2 separate regions of the Homo sapiens genome follow, and region 2 is linked to region 1. Evidence: fine-mapped expression QTL. A gene starts in region 1. The other region holds a variant in brackets. All regions are shown on one strand. Distances are from middle to middle.

What was found. PIP is the estimated chance that this variant, and not a neighbour inherited with it, causes the effect.
Region 2: its variant is the best candidate, but not a certain one, in a credible set for the expression of KCNC4 in spleen (GTEx, PIP 0.56).

What each region holds. Positions count from the first base shown.
Region 1 is chr1:110,207,650-110,212,029 of GRCh38, forward strand. It overlaps KCNC4 (potassium voltage-gated channel subfamily C member 4), which reads left to right and starts at 2,665. Exons shown (of 4, transcript NM_001039574.3): 1 at 2,665-4,380. The coding sequence starts at 3,851. It overlaps KCNC4-DT (KCNC4 divergent transcript), which reads right to left and starts at 2,338. Exons shown (of 2, transcript NR_046546.1): 1 at 1,962-2,338; 2 at 801-1,555. RefSeq lists silencers at 263-322, 333-382, 2,345-3,024 and an enhancer at 4,262-4,380.
Region 2 is chr1:110,265,138-110,269,517 of GRCh38, forward strand. It overlaps a transcript of KCNC4 not described here. Among named protein-coding and RNA genes, the nearest start is that of KCNC4, 57 kb to the left of the region's middle. The variant A/T (reference allele first, on the strand shown) is at 2,249.

The sequences.
Region 1 (4,380 bases):
GGACAAAAGAGAAAAGGTGAAAATGAGGGAAAGAAGCTTGGGGAACTAGGAATTTCCAATAGTGGCTGCTTTGTGGTCTTGCTTAAGCCTGTCAGGTATCAAGGTCTTGGAGGAATGAAGAAGGGAGGGAGTAGGCAGAGTCCCAATGGCAGAGTTAGGCTAGAAGATGTACCTGAGGTCCTGGAATCAACAGGAAGCCCAGAATCAGCTGCCACCCCATCTGCCCACATCACAGCCCCCAGAGCTCAGGGCGAGGTCTGGAGCCAGGATGTTCTAGCACCACCAGAGGGCAGCACCCTCACATCCATGGTAGGCTGTGTCACAGTAGCCTGGGCAGGGGGCTCTCCTATCCTTCCCCGGCTCTGTGTTTTGAGGGAACACCAAGACCTCACACAAAGAAATGATGGGGACAAGTCCCATAGTGCTAACTGCAGCATATCGACTCCCTCAGAGAGGTACACGTAACAGGTGAGCCCAGAGTTCTAGAATAAACCTTCAGCAAGGGTGAGGCATTCTCTGGAGGCCTCAGGACTGAGGCTGAGCTCCCCTCTCCCGAGCTGGTCAGTGCACAGAGCTGGGAGTCCTGGCCCCATGCACCTTTACCCAGCTGCCTCTCTCAGGCTGGGCCCTCTGTTTTTGTCAGCTCTTCCTAGGTTCCTATGCCTGTGTCCCAACTTTCTGATCTTCCTCCCTTCCCTCTTGGCCTCCTTTTTCCCTGGCAGCTTTCTCCCTTTACCCATCTCCCCAGGTGCTCATCACTATCCACAAGCACCGCAGAGTGGAAGCACCAGTTGGGCAGATTTACTAGGATGAGTGGCTGTTTTATTCACTGATGTATTTCCAGTACCCGGAACTGCTTCTGGCATATCGTAGGTATTCAATAAGTGTTCATTGAGTTAATAAGTCAATCAGGGGTGGGATACTATGGGTTTTGTCCCCTTGCCTACTACACTCCCTTTGTTACAATTACTGAGCTCAGTCATCCTGATGAACGGAAAGCAGGGGAGAGACCCCAAGGGACTTTGCCAGGACACGGACCAGATAGGACTTGAAAGTTATTCATTACATTAATATTCTGTGGTTCTTTCTTCCTCACTCCAGTTTCTGGCCTGTCCCGGGTCTTCTCTTCCCAGTCACACTTGGGATATTTCTTTTCACTGCAGCAAACTCAAAGACAGCTAAACTCTGAAATACAAACATCAGTTTCGAGGAGCAGGGACTGGGCACAAAGGGGGTGCCAGTAAATGTGTGTTTCTGATTAACTCACCTCCCCTGCGTGTCAGTACAGATCATCAAAGATCATTGTCATTTTGGTTTTCTGGCCTCATTAATAATGAGACTTTTGCTTGTAAAAATCCCTTGCATTGGCACTGAGCTTTTAACCTTTCCTGAGACACACATAGGCCCTTGTCTTGTTTTTCTCAGTTGAGCTAGGTACTGCCTGATCTGGAACTGGGAAGGTGCACAGGTGTCCAGGGCAGGTGTGTCATTCACCTTTCATTTCTGCCTCAAGATCTCTTTACATCATCCAGACAGGCATGGAGGCTGCCTGAAGCTGTAAAAAAGAAAAAAAAACCCAATGGGGATTAATATGAAGATGTAAAATAGGTTCTGGACTTAACAAAAACAAATGAATCTGGAAATTGCTCTTGGGATAGGGCCAGTAAAGTCCTGTTGGTGCCTACGTTTTGGGTATGGCAGCTTCTCAATCACTTAGCAAACAGGTTCTCAGAGGCAGGCACTGTGGGAGCTATCAAGATGAAAAAGCACAATGCCGCCTGCAGGAGCTCAGGGTTAGGGAGGGGAGAGGAGACATATACACAGGCAAAGTCAAATTGTAATGGGTAGAATAAGAGTAGAAACAGGAAGGGGTCATGAGGCAGGACACGGGCATTTCCTATGTGGACCCCAGAGCAATGACGAGCAAAGGCTTTAACTAATGACTTTTCAGGGCCACCCACCCACTCCACATCCATAAAACATTTCGCGATGAACACAGCCAGAGCTACGGTTTCCTTCCATCCGGCACAAGAAGCGCTTCTCTGCCCAAGGCCACCCCGTCCTCCATTCCATCGCGGGGACTTTGGTGGCTGGGACAGAGGCGGAGAGCATCAAGACCATGGGTGTCTTGGGCTACGTTGGGCCTCCGAGGCGCAGGATGCGGGGCGGGGTGGTCAGAAGGCCCCAACACGGTCCCTGGGAAAGGAGAGGGCAGCCTGATCCTCGCGACAGCGTCTCTACCCTCTTTCTTCCTTGGCCTTCCGTCAGCCGCAGTGAAACGGCAACAGTGCGACCAGCTTGGCGGGGAGGGGGCGAGGGACGAAGCAAGAAGAGCCGGGCGGAGGTTAGAGGTCAGGGGTCGAGAGCGCTTCGGTGTCAGCGGGCTGCGGTGGGAGGAGCTGCGGGCCCGGGGGAGGCGCGGAGCAGGGCTGAGGGGGGCGGGAGGGGTTGCCGGCGGAAGCGCGCAGGGGCGGCGCGCTGGGCTGGGCACTGGCGGCGAGGAGGTGACGCGCTTGGTTGGGGCTCGGCTCCGGGGAGGAAGACTGCGCTCGGTCGCCAGGGCCTGCAGTGAGTCGGATCGGCCCCGCGCTGCGCCGCGCCCCGCCCACCCCGCCCCGCGAAGGGCGCGTCTGGGCGAGGCGGGGCCCCGGAGGAAAAGGCGCCACTGGGGCGTGGCGGCCGCTGCCAGCGCCGGAGGGAGACCATGAGCCCCTAGGGCCCCAGCCCACCGGCGCCGAGGCGCCCCCTCCCCTATGCCACCTCGCGCCCGCCCCCTGCCGCGCGCGAGCCAAGGCCGGCGCCCCGCCCGGAGATGGGCAGACGCGTAGATGGCGTGGCTCCCAGCGCCGCCAGATCGCAGGAACCAGGCGCCGGGGCGTTGCGCTGAGGCTCCCTCTCCGCGCGGCCCGGGAAGCCTGCAGGTGTCCTTGGCCGCTCGGCCGCCGCCCCCGGTACACCTTCGCCAGTGCCCAGAGCCCGGCTCCCCAGAGCGGCCCCGCCCCCCAGGCTCGGCGCCGCGCAGGACGCCCCGTCTGAGGCACCCCCGCCCCAGCGCGGCCCCCGCAGCGCTGCGCCCGGTCCGGCGCAGCTCCCAGCCGCGGACGCAGGACCCGAGGCTCGCTCCTGCGGGCGCGCTTGTTTTCCAGCTGCCGCCTCGCCCTGCGCAGCCCCCGCCCGCCCGGCCGCCGCTCTCTGCTCTGCCCCGCCTGCCTTCCTCGCCCGGCGCTGGATTTATGAATGGGGGGAAGAGGCCACATGCCGCCGCCGCCGCCTCGTGTTGACCGCAAGCAGCCCGGGCCCACGGAGCTCCGGCTGCCGTGAGAGTGTCGGCCTGGCCCCGGCAGCCGCTCGGAGGACTTGTTGCTGCTGCGCTGCCGCCGCTGCGGGGAAGCCGGCTATTCCGGGGCTTGGTGCGGTCTTGGAGCCGGAGGGTGGCCCGTGTGAGCGCGAGCGCCCCGGACCTTCGCGGTGCGCGTGGACTGTGCGCTTCCTCGTCTTTGGTCGGGGTGAAGGCGGGGGCGTGTCCCCGGCCCAGAGCGTTTGTGTGTCCCGTCGTAGCGGGGGACCGCGTGTGTGCTTGCTTCTACTTCCCCGGGTCCTCCCTCTCTGCGCCTCCCTCTCTCCGGAGCTTCCTGCCCTAACCCCAACCACCTGTGTACCGGAGAAATCCAACTCCTCCCGCTCCGCGTCCTAGGGGGATAGGCAGGGGCAAGCCCAAGCCGCAGAGGGGGCCGCCACCGCCTCCTGCCTCCTCTTCGTCTCCTCCCCCTCCCCCGTCTGACGCTGCCTCCTCGGGAAGGGTGTTTGGAGGGCAGCGGCCGCCCCAAGCCGGAGCCCCGCAGCGCTTCTTATGATCAGCTCGGTGTGTGTCTCCTCCTACCGCGGGCGCAAGTCGGGGAACAAGCCTCCGTCCAAAACATGTCTGAAGGAGGAGATGGCCAAGGGCGAGGCGTCGGAGAAGATCATCATCAACGTGGGCGGCACGCGACATGAGACCTACCGCAGCACCCTGCGCACCCTACCGGGAACCCGCCTCGCCTGGCTGGCCGACCCCGACGGCGGGGGCCGGCCCGAGACCGATGGCGGCGGTGTGGGTAGCAGCGGCAGCAGCGGCGGCGGGGGCTGCGAGTTCTTCTTCGACAGGCACCCGGGCGTCTTCGCCTACGTGCTCAACTACTACCGCACCGGCAAGCTGCACTGCCCCGCGGACGTGTGCGGGCCGCTCTTCGAAGAGGAGCTCACCTTCTGGGGCATCGACGAGACCGACGTGGAACCCTGCTGCTGGATGACCTACCGGCAGCACCGCGACGCCGAGGAGGCGCTCGACATCTTCGAGAGCCCGGACGGAGGCGGCAGCGGCGCGGGGCCCAGCGACGAGGC
Region 2 (4,380 bases), 57 kb after region 1:
CTTGCAATCAAAACAGAATTTATTGATGCTATACTAGTAACTTCTTTTACCCTGTCCCTTCCCCCACACTCTGAGCATCTTCAGAGAAAGATCTCGTTTATAGTGTTCAGGTTCTTCCTAGGCTAGAAGCCTCGGAAAAATAAGTTTACAAGTGGCTGATGAGTGAACAGTAGAACTCTCAGGCTCCCTGAGTTTCCAGCAGCAGAAATAAAACATAAATAAAATAAAATAAAATAAAATAAAATAAAATAAAATAAAATAAAATAAAATAAAATAAAATAAAATATTCCCCACCCAGAGGATGGCCCCTAGCAGTCAGGTTTTAGGCTGCTAGAAGAGGGCTCCCAAAGGAGCTTTTAGAGAGGGCTGCCCAAGAAGTCATCCAGGCCCCTGTTCCCAGGCAACACTGAGGAACTCTGCACTCCTCTGGGCTGCTTGAGTTTCTTGCATTACAACAGTACTTATGTCAAAAAGTTAACCATCTCTGGTTTGGAGAGAAAGGCCCAATAGTCATCATCTTCCATTTTAGCACCAGGGAGCCTGTTCTGGGGCCCCGAAGAGGAACTCAGAGCCAGGGAAGAGGCCCTTGGAGGTGGGTAGGACAGGGTAGGTCCTGCCCAGCACTAGACCCTCTCCTCCTGAAAACACGGAGAAACTGGGCTGGTGGTGCTCCAGCCCCAGAGAGGCCCTTGGTTCCTTTGTTGACCCTCCCAAGTGACTTGTTGCACCTACCTTCCTACCTTGTTTGTCATTTGTTCATTCATTCATTCTTTCAGCACAGATAGACCCAGCCTACCATGTGATAACACTAAACCTCAGAGCACCGCAGGAATACAAAAGAAATACATGTAGCCTTGTTCCCTTTTCACATAGAGAGCTAGGGACAGGGTGGGGACTGCCTCTTGAAGTTCCATGAAGGCAGAAGAGGCACTGTGGAGCATTTAATAGATGCAGGCATTCTTCTGCTTAAGTACAATTCACCCAATTCCCCCGACAGCTCTGGAAATAGGGGGAGAAATAATGGGCAGGGAAGCAAGTTAAGTGGCTGATCAGGGACACAAGTACTGGCTTTGTGGTAACCAGATCCCAACACTGTTGCATGGGGAGAGAGTCTCAGTTGACTGAAAGGATCAGATATTGAAACATTCATAGCCGCAACACCGAAACTGCACCCTGGAGGGCTGAGTGAGGAGGGGAGGGGCTGGAGTGCAGAACAAACCTGGTCCCACAAATAAATCCAGCCCCAGGACATCACTTTCCTAATGAGAAGCAGCAAGAATTTCTGCAAGGTTTTTGGAAGACCCTTTGGAAACAGTCATTCATTGTTGGTAACCCTCACTGAGTCCTTAGGAACAGCCAGGCTTGCTCTAAGCACTTTACATGGGATAACTCCTTTAGTCTCCCTAGCAACCCTAGGAAGTAGGTACTATTACTATTCTCATTTTGCTAATGAGGAAAGGTAAAACGACTTGCCCAAGGGCACAGAACCTTTAAGTGGCAGGGCTGGGATTTGAACCCAGCCTAGCTCCAGCCTCTGCTCCTAGCTATAAGTCTGCCACAGCTGTTGTTGCCATTCTTGATCCAGATTGGCCCCCTTGCTCTTTGTATGGGCCCCATTTCTTCCCCTTAAGTCTTGGCATCTGTACCCCAAGGGACCCGAATACCAGGAGAGACCTAAAGTCTGTGTTCCCCGGACCCGAGGACCCCGTGCCTTGATGTGCCATTGTCATGGGGATGTTTGCCCCTTCTGATGTCTCCTTCTTAGCTCCTGGTTAGTTCTCTTGAAGCATCCCACTTTCTCACTTTGGCTTGCAGGGCAGGCTGAGCAAACACCATCTGCCAAGAGGCCTGCAGCAAAACAAACTGCAGCAGCCCCAGAGGTCTTGTAGCTTCCATTTAGCAAGCAGCCCGCACGCCTCTGTGGGCAGAACCCTTGGGGAGAGGGCTGCTATTCATCACTTGTTTGGCTGTGGGAGGCTCAGCAGTCTGTGTAGGGTGGGCTTTGCTGGGGAGAAAGGTGCTGGTTTTCTGAGAGCTGAGGAGGCCACTGGGAAGGTTTGGGGCCCAGGAGGGCTGCTGCTGGACTCCAGGTTGCTCAGGATCAACGTCTTTTCTCCATTCTGATGCAGAAGAACCATGTGCTTGCTTGTTTGCTATTTATACTGCAGTTGCTGTCTAGGGGTTTTCTTTGAAGGGAATGAATAGACTCTGAGGCTCTAAGTACATTTCTGGCTCAGTGCTGTGCTGC[A/T]CACACCTCAGTTCAGCTGATACGAGGCCCGTCCTTATTCCCCGCTGCCTCCATGTCCTTCTGGAATCCGTACATTCCAGATAGCACCACTCCCCAATGCCTCCACCGCCCACATGAACACACTCCTAAGTACATTTACAATCCGGCTCCTGCTTCCTTCCCTGGCCAGCAAAACTTCATTTCAGCCTCTCTTAGGATTAGGTTATGCCCTTAGCCATCATCTTATTCTGTTCCTTTTAGCAAGATGCGAACCTCTACATTCTGTCATTCTTAATCCTCCTTGCCCCACTTCCTATGTATCTCACCACCAGGAAGGGACTGAAATCGCCTTTGCAGAATTATAAGTAATGAGAGAAATCTAACATGACAGACTCCATCTTGCTTCTAACCTCACAGGCTAAATTGGTTTTTTGCTTATTCTAGTCTGGAGGCCAATATAACTATGAGAGGAATTTGGTTTACAGTTAAACTTTGAGGCCAGAAAAACTGCCCCTTCCTTGTTCAGAGATTGAAGTCGCATTCGTAATACATGGTTAGAATCATGGTAAGGGCTCTAACTTTGCTGAAGAATAGGCATAGTTAAGCAATAACCTGCCATGACTTAGCATGCTTTTCTAGAAGTTTTTTACTACCCCCGAGTCATGTAAGCAGGGGTCACAAGATTTATAACTTCCCCAGCTATTCCTATATAACATCACTATTGTGAAACCTAAAGAACTTCCCCATATGTATCTGAGATATTTTTGAGATTTTTTTTCAGATTTGGCATTTTGGCAGACCAAGAGATAGATGCCACCTGGTCTTGAGACCCCCTCCCAGTACCTGACTCAGCTGCACAAAGGCAGCTTTAGACACCCCTGTGATCTTATCCCCTGTCAATCAATTGTTTCAATTCTCCAGCCCCCTGGCTGCCAGAGTGCCTTTAAGAAACTCTAGCCTTGGCCGGGTACCGTGGCTCACGCCTGTAATCCCAGCACTTTGGGAGGCCGAGGCGGGCAGATCACGAGGTCAGGAGATCGAGACCATCCTGGCTAACACGGTGAAACCCCATCTCTAATAAAATACAAAAAATTAGCCAGGCGTGGTGGCGGGCGCCTGTAGTGCCAGCTACTCCGGAGGCTGAGGCGGGAGAATGGCGTGAACCCGGGAGGCAGAGTTTGCAGTGAGTCGAGATCGCGCCACTGCACTCCAGCCTGGGAGACAGAGCAAGAGACTGTCTCAAAAGAAAAAAAAAAAAAAAAAGAAAAGAAAAGAAAAAAAAAGAAACCCTAGCCTTGGAATTCTCGGGAAGACAGGCTTGAGAAGTTTCTCCCGTTCTGCTCATGTGGCTGGCCCTGAGATTTTATTTTTTTTTTTTTTTGAGACGGAGTCTCGCTGTGTCACCCAGGCTGGAGTGCAGTGGCGCGATCTCGGCTCACTGCAAGCTCCGCCTCCCGAGTTCACTCCATTCTCCTGCCTCAGCCTCTCTGAGTAGCTGGGACTACAGGCGCCCGCCACCACGCCCGGCTAATTTTTTGTATTTTTAGTAGAGACGGGGTTTCACCGTGGTCTCGATCTCCTGACCTCGTGATCCGCCCGCCTCGGCCTCCCAAAGTACTGGGATTACAAGCGTGAGCCACCGCGCCCGGCCTACCCTGAGATTATTAAGCTCTTTCTTTGCTGCAACAACCTGCTGTTCTCATTGTTTTCTTCAGGGCAGCAGGCAAGAAGAACCCATCAGTCTGTGACAGGGCCATCTTTTCAGAAAGCAAATCTCCCTGGGCCTTCCTGTAGCCTGGTATTTTGTTTTTTTCATTCAGGTTTATTAAAGTGCAATTTACACCAAGTAAAATACAACTCAAGATTTTTGACAGACACGTCAGTTGAGTAACCACCACCACAATCAAGATACAGAACAATTCCATCACCCCAAAACATTCTCTCATATACCTTTAAAGCCAACAACTTCCCCCATCGCCAGCTTCTCACAACCACCAATCTAATCTGTGGTGGTTTTATTTTTCTCCCCTCTGGTTTCGCCTTTCCCAGAATGTTACATAAATGAAATCTGGAGTCTGGCTTCTTTCACTCAGAGAGACTCAGCCATGTTGTTGCAAGCAGCAGTAGTCCATTGCTAGGTAGTATTCTGAAGT